Homo sapiens: one gene and its partners. The main gene of each other region encodes a partner of the protein of the gene in region 3 in a complex. Each region holds a gene or a part of one and is shown on either strand. Other genes may lie near its edges.

Region 1 (3,600 bases), on a different chromosome or scaffold from region 3:
CTGGGTAGTACCCTCTGCTTATCCTTTCCTGAGTCTTAGCAACAGCAGCTTGTGGGGTGCAGGGTGATGGACATGTGCCCTGTGCCGTGTGGCCTTGGAGCTTTAGTTGATGCTTTTGGACTTCGACTATCAGAAATAGTATTTAAATAGTATTTAATTAGCAAGGATTCTTCACCTGGTTCCTAGAGTAGGGGTCCAATCTTGGGCTTTGAGTCCTGTGATTCCAAGTATGTGTACAATTTGTGTTTGTGTGCACTTTATTGAAATGAGGGGGTCCATCGTTTTCATCTGATTTTTATTTTATTTTTTTGAGACAGGGTCTTGGTATGTTGCCCAGGTTGGAGCACAATGGCGCAATCATAGCTTACTGCAGCCTTGACCCCCTGGGCTCAAGGAATACTCCTGCTTCAGCCTCCCAAGTACCTAGGAGACTACAGGTGTACACCACCATGCCCAGCTAATTTTTTAAAATTTTATTTTTTGGAAACAGGGTCTTGCTGTGTCACCCAGGTTGGTCTAGAACTCCTGGGCTCAAGCGATTCTCCTACCTTGGCCTCCCAAAGTACTAGGATTATAAGCATGAGCCACTGCACACAACTCATCTGATTTTTAAAGGAGACTTGGGGTTGGGGTACAGGACCAAAAATGTTTAGAATCAGAGTCCTAGAAGTCCAATGGAGCTCTGTCTCCACGCCTTTTTCTCATATAGGGGGTTATAGTATAGTGTCATGGGTCTATCGTCTGTCTCCAGCAGTCTGAACAGCCAGAGAGGAAGGACTCCTGAGGGTGTACAACTGTTTGGCATTTCTGGTTGCAATTGCTAGCCGTTAGTCCAGTGAGAACATCATATCACTTAAAATTCCACACCCGAAGTGTGTAGGTGAGAGTGTATGAAAAGCACAGAATAGGCTTTTGTGGAAAAGTATGTAATTCATGTTTTTGGCCCACTTGCCTCTGGGGCTACTCGCCTTTTATACAGCGGGGGTCACACACAAGCCCCTGTCAGGGTGTGCTGACTCTTCCTCCTCATCTTTCTTCCCCAGCTGCAGTCTCACCTGATCCCTGGCCTGAACCTGGCTGCTGTAGGTCTTTTCCCAGCTTCATCCAGCGCAGTCCCGCCGCCTCCCAGCAGCGTTACTGGGGCTGCTCCCTATAGCTCCTTTATGGTAGGTGGAAGATCTTATTACACGGGATCCCTGGGCCCATATGTGGCCTCCCTTAAGGGGGACTCAGCATGCTCTGGGAGTTGGATGCTTGGCAAGTTTGCAGGGAGAGGGAAGGAAGGTCTCAGAGGCATCCCTCCTCTCCAGTGCTCCTAGCCACTGGCTCTGAGGCTCCCAAATGTCTGCCTAGAATGCTCCCGGGGCATAGACAGCACTGTTCCCTTACTCTCTCCTGGCCTCTTCCCTTTAGCCCTACTGGGCATAGGAAGAGCTAAAGAGCTCACAGCATCCCTTGGCAGCCCAGGGTGGCGGTTTGGTGCCTGTACTCCTTCCTCCTTGAGGATGCAAGGCAGGGGAGTGGAGGGTTTCTGGGCCATGCTACTTGGGCCCCCTGGTAACAACGCCTCCTATCCTGGCAGCAGGCTCCCGAGCAGGAGATGGTGCAGGTGTTTATCCCCGCCCAGGCAGTGGGCGCCATCATCGGCAAGAAGGGGCAGCACATCAAACAGCTCTCCCGGTTTGCCAGCGCCTCCATCAAGGTGATCTGCTCTGTGGGTCTTCCTGTTTCTGGAAAGGGAGGGGTCTCTGCTTTTATCACTCTGCACTTTCTCCCATATTCCCCCTACTCATTTGAGAATTCTGTGTGTCATATGAGGGACCTTTCCCCCATGGAATCGAAGTCCTCTTTGTTTTTGATCTTGCTTGGTCCCCATGGGATGGCTTCAGTGCTTCTGGGTTTTCAGGCTGGGCAGGGGCAGGGTTATAACATAGAAAGAGAACTTAGGTTCTAACACAAACTGATGGGTTCAAATCCAAGATCCATCTCATCACCCCTTCCCCCAATACACTATATGATCTGAGCCTCACTTTCCTCGTCAGTACAATATTATGAGGCTACGCAGCCAAAGCCCTTCGCTCACATACTAACACCAAGTAAGTGTTAGTTGTCTGTCACCTTCCCTGGCCAAGGTCCAGGGGAGAGAGAAGGGAGAATCTGTCATAGTGAAACAAGGATGCTGTTAGAGTTTCACAAACCTAAATCCGGTTGCTTTAGTTGTCTTAAAAGCTTTGAGCAAAAACCTTGATTGTTCTCCAGTGGAGGTGCAGTCACTGCCCTCTATCCGTTGGTCATTTCATTTGTGTCCTTGCCTGTTGGCAAGACTCCACTGAAACCTCTCTGGGAGATTGGTAGGTGGAGGGGGCAGGAGGCCCTACTTAGAAAGTGTCATTGAAGCCAATCCTTCTAACTGACCACCTCTGCCCTCCTAATAATTCTGGTGTGAAGGCGTAATGATGTGGGCTTCAGGGTCTTTGTTCTTCCTCCCCTAAGTCTTCAGAATGGGTAGTTGGGAGTAAGGGTGGTAGAAGGGGAACTGGATGAAGTGGACATGGTGGGGGTCTTCCCATAGAGGGTCCCTCATTGACTAGCTTTTTGCTTTTTAGATTGCACCACCCGAAACACCTGACTCCAAAGTTCGTATGGTTATCATCACTGGACCGCCAGAGGCCCAATTCAAGGTTTTGGTCTTTATTGTTTTCCAAGCTGAACATGGAGGAATTGAGGTTGGGTATTTCCCCTGAGGTAGGAAAAAGGCTGGGTCAGTTTCCCGTTAGCTGTCAAGTCCTCATCACATCTTTAAGCCTTCCATGCAGGATAAAGGGCTGCAGAGCTATTTTCAAATTGACATCAAACTGGATTTCTGTTGACTTCGTCTTCCCTTTTTAAGGTCCACAGAAGAAGATGGGAAGGAAAGAAGTCTGAGGGCATCTTATTTGCACTCTGCTGTCATTTCTAAGGAAGGCCTTTAATGCCAAATTCTCATCTTTTATGTCCCCACTAAATCCTAAGGTTCTTGAACTTCTGATCAGACAGCCAAAAAATGAACCATCAACTAGCTTAACCTAACATATGTGAGGATAGAGGACTGGGACAGCTCTCTGGGCCACTGGAGAGTCAGACAGGCCTGCCCTCTGTGTGACTTGATTAGTTGCCATTCAGGGCCTTGAAATGCTGGTCAGTGCCACGTCCAGATTCCATAGGTCTGGTTTGTAGCTTGTGAATTAGATTCCTCTGGGAACTATTTTTTCCCTTGGGAAGTGTTTATTCAATTACTCATAACTCATAATCTCCACCCAGGGTCTCCAGTATGATAGCTAAGCAGAAGGAATGCTGACAAGCTGCCCACCTGAGCCTTGCCCTTCACCTGCCTTAGATGGTTAGCCCGCCTAGGATGGGGAGGGCCTGTGGGCCAGAAAATATGGGCTGGAGCTTCCTTTTTCCCACTTTTCTCTTTTGTCACAGATATATGAACCACTGATTAACAATTACCTCCTCTTCTCAGGCTCAGGGAAGAATCTATGGCAAACTCAAGGAGGAGAACTTCTTTGGTCCCAAGGAGGAAGTGAAGCTGGAGACCCACATACGTGTGCCAGCATC
Region 2 (3,824 bases), on a different chromosome or scaffold from region 3:
AACACACCCATGATACCTCTAGAATATTTTTTGAAAAGCTGCAAAGCCAGCTTATTGACAGTTGAAATACTGATGGAGAATGTACATTTGGCAACTGGCTTTTTTTTTTAGGAGTCTCAAACCCCAATGAATTTAGAATGTTAACCCTGCTGCCCTCCACTTCCATCAGTATGGATTATTAGACTATTTCTCAAAGCAGCTTTGACAATAAGATTGTTTAGTGTGGGTATGTAGATGAGAAACTGAGGCTAGGAGGAGGAGGCTTTTTTTTTGGTTTAAAATCATGGTGAATGGCTTCAAATTCAGCTTGGTTTTGATATTTATATTGGTGAGTTTTCTAATTTATAGACAATGTGGTGATTGTATTACTTTTTAACCTGGTGTGCTTTGTAGTGTGCCAGTGCTCTTGAGCCAAGCGTATGGTTTAAGAAAATCAGTTAAGGGTATAGGCCTTGAGCATTGTTGTAGTGGTGTGGAAACAGGGAAAGCCTAGAATATGGAAAAGGTTGGTATATGGAGTTAGCTGTTTAAGACAACCATGAATTGGAGGCTTTCACAGATCTAGCTGTGAGTGAATTGAGTTTGATCTGTAAATCTAGTTTTTCCATAAAAGTGGAGTATAGTTGTCTCCATTGTAATTCAGTTGTAATCAAGTTTGCATTGGTGAGCTAGAACTAAAGTTTTTAAACTTTTAGTTTGTGACTTTTAGCTTTCAGTTTTTTTTGCAAGGGGGTGGCTTAATTTTTTGTTTGTTTGTTTGTTTGTTTTTGGGAGACAGAGTCTTACTCTGTCACCCAGGCTGGAGTGCAGTGGCGTGATCTTGGCTCACTGCAACCTCCACCTCGCGGGTTCGAGCAATTCTCCTGCCTCAGCCTCCCGAGTAGCTGGGACTACCGGTGGGTGCCACCAGGCCCAGCTGATTTTTGTATTTTTAGCAGAGGTGAGGTTTCACCATGTTGACCGGGATGGTCTCAATCTCTTGACCTCGTGACCCACCCACCTTGGCCTCCCAAAGTCCTGAGATTACAGGTGTGAGCCACCATGCCTGGCTGCTTACAGTTTCAATGAGAGCTAAGTTGTGGTAAAAAGGCATAGAGACATTTTTAGAGGAAGTTTGACAGAGGGAATAAGTTTTTCCTTTTTGTTTTTATGGATTGACAAAAAGTGTTATTTGGGTCTTAACTATTAAGGTTAAAAAATCCGTTTATAGCATAGGGATTACATGTGAGAAAATGGAAAGATGAGCTATTACTCATTTAGTTTATGTTATAGATGTGAGCAAGTTTATGAATGTTTTTATTAATTACAGTATTTTTCATAAACAGTTAGTGTCCTTTGAGTAGAAAATGTTAAAAATCTGTCCAGTAATTTTCAGAGACTGAGGTGACCCTAGATTATGCATTTTGATAAATTTTGTCAGATAGCTAGGATTAGTCTGTTTTTATTTCAGAATGTCCTAGCTAATAAAATTGGTTTTGTTTAGAAAACCACTTTTGTGCTTTGTGGTTGAGACAGTGGAGAAGGGGAATAATTCTTGACTTTTTCCTTCAGATAATGGAGGAGTGTACCTTTTTTTTTTTTTTTTTTTTTTTTTTTTTGAGATGGGGTCTTGCTCTGTCATCCAGGCTGGAGTGCAGTGGCGCGATCTCCGCTCACTGCAACCTCCGCCCCTCCAGGTTTAAGCGTTTAAGCAGTTCTCTGCCTCAGCCTCCTGAGTAGCTGGCATTACAGGCGCGTGCCACCACGCCTGGCTAATTTTTTGTATTTTTAGTAGAGACAGGGTTTCACCATCTTGGCCAGGCTGGTCTTGAGCTCCTGATGTCCTGATCCACCCGCCTTGGCCTCCCAAAGTGCTGGGATTACAGGTGTGAGCCACTGCACCCAGCCTATACTTCTTTCTATACTTTGCCTAGAATAAGGAATAAACACCTAATGCTCTGAGTAAATATGAGTTGTGTAAATTTTAACAGTTACTTTTTGGGAGTTAAAATGTAGAGGTTATGTAACGTTGCAGTTTCATAAAGTTTTTAAAAGTCGTTTTGGCTGTTACTTTTTTCTGAAGGACCCATGCTATCCCATGAAATATGGCACGTAAATGTCAAATAATAATAGGAGATTTTTTTTCCCTGTAGCTCCCAAGTTTCTAGACTTGGTATGGGAAGTGTAATTTCTTCTGAGGTTGGCACAATGCCCAGAATGGCAGTATGTACCTAGGAGTGGGGTTTATAGGGAATTTATTGGGTGAGAGATCCAGATTTGAAAGATGCTCAACCAAATTAGGTACAATCATTTTTTAAGATGGTATTAACATAGTAATACATCCTGTCTTGAAAGTTGCTGATGGATTGGTCTTAACTTTTTGTTGTCCATTAAGCACACTATTCAGTAATTAAGTGGAGACTAGAAAGTAATTTGAACAGGACCCTGGACTTCTGATAATAATTTAGGAGTATAACAAGTACACATTTAAGGGGAAATTTTAAAACAGACATCACAAACCTGTTTTTATAAGGGAACATGCCAAGATAATTGGAAAGATTTGAGCAAGATGGATGTTAACTGCTAAATATATGGGTGTGGTCTAGTGAATTAAATGTATTAATGACGTTTGAACTTTTCAAGGCACTCTTGGAAAGAACAGGCTACACACTTGATGTGACCACTGGACAGAGGAAGTATGGAGGACCACCTCCAGATTCCGTTTATTCAGGTCAGCAGCCTTCTGTTGGCACTGAGGTAAAGCAACTAAAAACTTGTACCTTTTGTAGTAAAAGCACAGGTATCTGGTTTCCTAAAGCAATTCTCCATGGTTTTTACTTAATATTTAATTTACAGATATTTGTGGGAAAGATCCCAAGAGATCTATTTGAGGATGAACTTGTTCCATTATTTGAGAAAGCTGGACCTATATGGGATCTTCGTCTAATGATGGATCCACTCACTGGTCTCAATAGAGGTTATGCGTTTGTCACTTTTTGTACAAAAGAAGCAGCTCAGGAGGCTGTTAAACTGGTAAGTTGTCCTTTTTTCCCCTTCAGTTTTCACGTTCACTGTCTTTAATATCAAGTTTTTTTCTTAGTGTGCCTAAGAGTTTACCAAACATTTTTTGAAGTACTGATTTAGGCAGGTTTTTTTTTTCCCACATCACTGTGCAAGCATTGTAGTGTTATTCTTTGCATGTATAGTTGATAGGATTCAGCATCTAAAAGGCGGCATGGTAGAATTCCTAGCAATTGGTTCTTATAAACATCTGGCTTAGTGACGTTTTTGTGTGTTTGTTTAAATTTATAGGAATGTGAAAAGATTAAGAAAAGTAACTGTGGTAAGAGCTCTCATACTTCCTGGCCATACCTGAGCCATCTCTTTTTCTTAAATAATTCACAAAAGACATTGTGATACATTTCTAGTTGATGAAACAAAAGATTTTATGGTGAGTGGCAATGTTTGATTTAAAAATACCAGATGTTAGGTAAGGACCTGGTAATCTTTCCAACTTTTTTAAAAAGGAAATTTTTCTTTTTTCTTTTCTTTTTTTTTTGAGACCAAGTTTCTCTCTCTTGCCCAGGCTGAAGTGGCATGATTTCGGCTCACTGCAACCTCCACCCCTCAGGTTCAAGTGATTCTCCTGCCTCAGCCTCCCGAGTAGCTAGGATTATAGGCGCCTGCCACCACGCTCAGGCTAATTTTTATATTTTTAGTAGAGATGGGGTTTCGCCATGTTGGCCAGGCTGGTCTCGAACTCCTGACCTCCGGTGATCCACTCGCTTCGGCCTCCCAAAGTCCTGGGATTTTAGACGTGAGCCACCACGCCTGGCTAGAAAGAA
Region 3 (3,824 bases):
TTTTTTGTTACAAAAAAACGTAGTTGGTTTAGTGATGAGAATGTACAACTCTGGGTGTGATAAATAGACCAAAGGATAAAAATAACTGTTTCAAAAGTATCAGCTATGGTGTCAGCCTGCTGTGTTAGATGGAAGGCATTGGAGCTTAGCTTCTCATGTTTTCTTGTACAAATTGGCTTTATTCAGATTTGTAAGAGTGTCAATGTAAAACTCTTTCTTACTGGAATATCCTTTACAGAAGGTTGAGATAGTCATCTGAGCCTTTTTAAAAGAAAAAACTGCAGGTGAAAAAGGAGTTAGTTGATGTGAAAGTTTTAGTGAAATTCTGGGTTGTATAAATAAGTTGCTAGGAATTGGCAAGGTAGTGAAGTGGTGACTCACACAGGTAATGTAATTGTTAGATTTTTTAGCAAATCAGGAATATGTCAATATAAGTACAATGTTGAATTCAAACAATCTGTTGAATTAAATTCTGTTGATTAGAATAACTCTAATTTAAGAAAAATTCCAAACTGTAGATTTATTTTTCTCTGATCAGTAAAAAGAAAATGAGTTCCAGCTTGACTTTAGCTGTTCAAGTGAGAAGTCTGAGGAAGTGCATGTTAATGAGCCAGTGACCCATAGGTAGCTGGGTTAAAGACACTTTGGATTTGGATAATCCGGGAAGCAATTAATCCCTAATTGTTGAACAGGCAGTCCTGGGTAAAGAGGACCTAAAATGCTGCACTATTAACAGCATTAGACGGCCAGGTTTGTACTTCATAGTTTTAGGCTGTCTTCTTCACAAGTTTTAGAAAAAGAATTTAGGAGCTAGAGCCCTGGTGCAGGATCAACAGCAGCTCATACTCCTATTTTAAAATAATTTGGTCGTGGCCTCCCTTCAGTTTTAATGTGGCACTGGTAAATCTACCTGGTTCTGGCATGCTTCACTTTGATTTCCTGCTATCCTCTACTGCTTGCCTCTAAATCAAGGTAAAGAGCAGAGCAGGTATGTATTAATGTCACATTGTCTTGATTATTTTAAATACTTAAAATATACATGTTAAACCTTGGTATTAGTTTCACAGGCAGTTTACTTTTCAGTACATAATTTAACAGGAGTGACTTGGTGGGAGTGGGGCTTTAAACTGAAAATTGGAACAACAGCATGATGTGGAGAAAAGTTGTGCAGCATTAAGAAGTACATGCAAAAATTAAGTAACCAAGTTTTGTCTACATAGCAGATATGTTTACATTGGATGTCAAAAGTAACACAGTATTTGATATAATTACAGATAATTGTGATCTACATTTTAAAATATCAAGAGATCGTCTCAGTGCTTCTTCCCTTACAATGGAGAGTTTTGCTTTTCTTTGGGCTGGAGGAAGAGCATCCTATGGTGTGTCAAAAGGCAAAGTGTGTTTTGAGATGAAGGTAAATGCAATTTTATGATTTGTTTGTTTGTTTGTGGAGACAGTCTCACTCTGTTCCCTAGGCTGGATTGCCGTGGTGCGACCTAGGCTCACTGCAACCTCCGCGTCCTGGGTTCAAGCGATTCTCCTTGCTTCAGTCTCTCAAGTAGCTCGGACTAGAGGCACACACTACCACACCTGGCTAATTTTTGTATTTTTAATAGAGATGGGGTTTCACCACGTAGGCCAGGCTGGTCGCCAACTCTTGACCTCAGGTGATCCACTGTCTCGGCGTCCCAAAGTGCTGGGATTACAGGCATGAGCCACTGTGCCCAGCCTTTTTTTTTCCTTTTTAAAATAGTGACAAGGTCTCACCATGTTGCCCAGGCTGGTCTTGAACTCCTAAGCTCAAGTGATCTGCCCGCCTGAGCCTCTCAGAATGCTGGAATTACAGGTGCTTCATACTGCTAAGTTATCAAAGGTACTTATTTTTGAAGCTTCCTGTAAATTAAAAGAGGAGCTTGGAACCTTCATTTTGTTGTGACAGTTAATCACGGTTGTTATGTTAGAACTTGCCATGCAGAGCTAGGCGATTTTTTATTTAGGGTACTTCATTTTTATCAAGCATTTGAAAGGGCCACCAAAGAGTTAAAAATAAAATTTGGTTACATTACTGCTTTTGTTGGTGAGAAAAACATTAATTGTATCCTTTAATTGGCTTTAAGTTAAAGACTGACAACATGAACTTTAAAAATATTAAGTATTCTTTTAAATATGGGTCAAATAAGTATTTAACTCTTTAAATTTCAAGTTATAAGCACATCAGTTTAAAGTTCTTACAAATATTGGGGGTGGGCTAGAGTGTGCCTTCTTTGTATTTATAGCTAGAGGAAGATTAGCCCGTGGCGCAATGAAATATGCGAGAGTTAAGGGGTTACCTCCTTGGTGTATTATTTTAATTATTTAATGATTTGACTTTCAGGTTACAGAGAAGATCCCAGTAAGGCATTTATATACAAAAGATATTGACATACATGAAGTTCGTATTGGCTGGTCACTAACTACAAGTGGAATGTTACTTGGTAAAGCTTCTTTTTGACTGATGTGGGCTCATGAATGTTCAGGAGGGTCTGATTTCAGTGTTTTTTAACTAGAGGGCATTCTAAGCCTTTTGTCTGTTTTTATCTATTCTGTTAATACTTCAGACAGGTAATATTAGCACATAGTAGGCACAGGCTACATTTTAGTTTTTGTTCCTTTATTAGAAGTTTATGACCAATGGTTGAAATAAAATCTTACCCGTGATATGCAAATCGTCAACTAATTTGGTCTCTGCGTATATATCCCTCCTAACTTCCATCAATTCTGGTACAGAGATAGAAAAGTAATAGTGTCAGTGACAGGTGATTAGGTTATATGCTTATTTCTCTTGTAGCCTACATCTTAAGTAGTAAAATAGATGAGTCTTTGGACTATTTTAAACATCTACTTCATGAAGATTAATTATTTTCTTAGGTGAAGAAGAATTTTCTTATGGGTATTCTCTAAAAGGAATAAAAACATGCAACTGTGAGACTGAAGATTATGGAGAAAAGTTTGATGAAAATGATGTGATTACATGTTTTGCTGTAAGTTAAAGCTAACTTTCTATGTATAAATGGCAAAGTTAGTAGCTATATCTAGGAACTTTAAAGAAGCTTTACTGAGGTCAGTTTTCAATATGAGCAACAAAATACACCAGTCCCTGGATTAGTGTAAAGACTTCATTCAGCAGTTGAATTGGGAAAACACAGGACATTTTTGAGGAACTCACTAATTCATTTTGACTGAAAACAGTGAACATGAAATTGACCTAGAAAATTCAGTCTAGCTTCTAGGTCAGTATTGTTTCTGGTTCTGGAGATACGTGCTTCATGGTTTACAACCATCAGATTTCTTAACTGTGTAGCCCTTAAAGGCCACCTAATAGTTCTTTAACCTGTAGCTTCCACAGGATAAGCTTTGCTCCTAATTTTAATTCTTAGTTTTTTAGAAAGTTTAAGGAAGCAGATTTTAACTGTTGAATTTTTTTCTGTGTAACAGAACTTTGAAAGTGATGAAGTAGAACTCTCGTATGCTAAGAATGGACAAGATCTTGGCGTTGCCTTCAAAATCAGTAAGGAAGTTCTTGCTGGACGGCCACTGTTCCCGCATGTTCTCTGCCACAACTGTGCAGTTGAATTTAATTTTGGTCAGAAGGAAAAGCCATATTTTCCAATACCTGAAGAGTATACTTTCATCCAGAACGTCCCCTTAGAGGATCGAGTTAGAGGACCAAAGGGGCCTGAAGAGAAGAAAGATTGTGAAGTAAGGGATTTTTTTTTTTTTAACTGTGGCATTTGAATATTGCTTGCCTGGCACAAAATGACATTTAGAAGAACTAGATGATTAGT

Evidence for each region.
Region 1: HNRNPU (region 3) and IGF2BP1 share a complex: the UniProt entries of both Homo sapiens proteins name them as parts of the coding region determinant (CRD)-mediated complex.
Region 2: HNRNPU (region 3) and SYNCRIP share a complex: the UniProt entries of both Homo sapiens proteins name them as parts of the coding region determinant (CRD)-mediated complex.

What each region holds. Positions count from the first base shown.
Region 1 is NC_000017.11:49,042,385-49,045,984, forward strand, and holds part of IGF2BP1 (insulin-like growth factor 2 mRNA-binding protein 1), read left to right. Parts: intron 1-1,043; coding exon 1,044-1,166; intron 1,167-1,582; coding exon 1,583-1,702; intron 1,703-2,606; coding exon 2,607-2,681; intron 2,682-3,505; coding exon 3,506-3,600. UniProt on the Homo sapiens protein: RNA-binding factor that recruits target transcripts to cytoplasmic protein-RNA complexes (mRNPs). This transcript 'caging' into mRNPs allows mRNA transport and transient storage.
Region 2 is NC_000006.12:85,636,155-85,639,978, reverse strand, and holds part of SYNCRIP (heterogeneous nuclear ribonucleoprotein Q), read left to right. Parts: intron 1-2,622; coding exon 2,623-2,736; intron 2,737-2,835; coding exon 2,836-3,012; intron 3,013-3,824. UniProt on the Homo sapiens protein: Heterogenous nuclear ribonucleoprotein (hnRNP) implicated in mRNA processing mechanisms. Component of the CRD-mediated complex that promotes MYC mRNA stability.
Region 3 is NC_000001.11:244,857,925-244,861,748, reverse strand, and holds part of HNRNPU (heterogeneous nuclear ribonucleoprotein U), read left to right. Parts: intron 1-1,274; coding exon 1,275-1,414; intron 1,415-2,374; coding exon 2,375-2,474; intron 2,475-2,907; coding exon 2,908-3,020; intron 3,021-3,474; coding exon 3,475-3,738; intron 3,739-3,824. UniProt on the Homo sapiens protein: DNA- and RNA-binding protein involved in several cellular processes such as nuclear chromatin organization, telomere-length regulation, transcription, mRNA alternative splicing and stability, Xist-mediated transcriptional silencing and mitotic cell progression.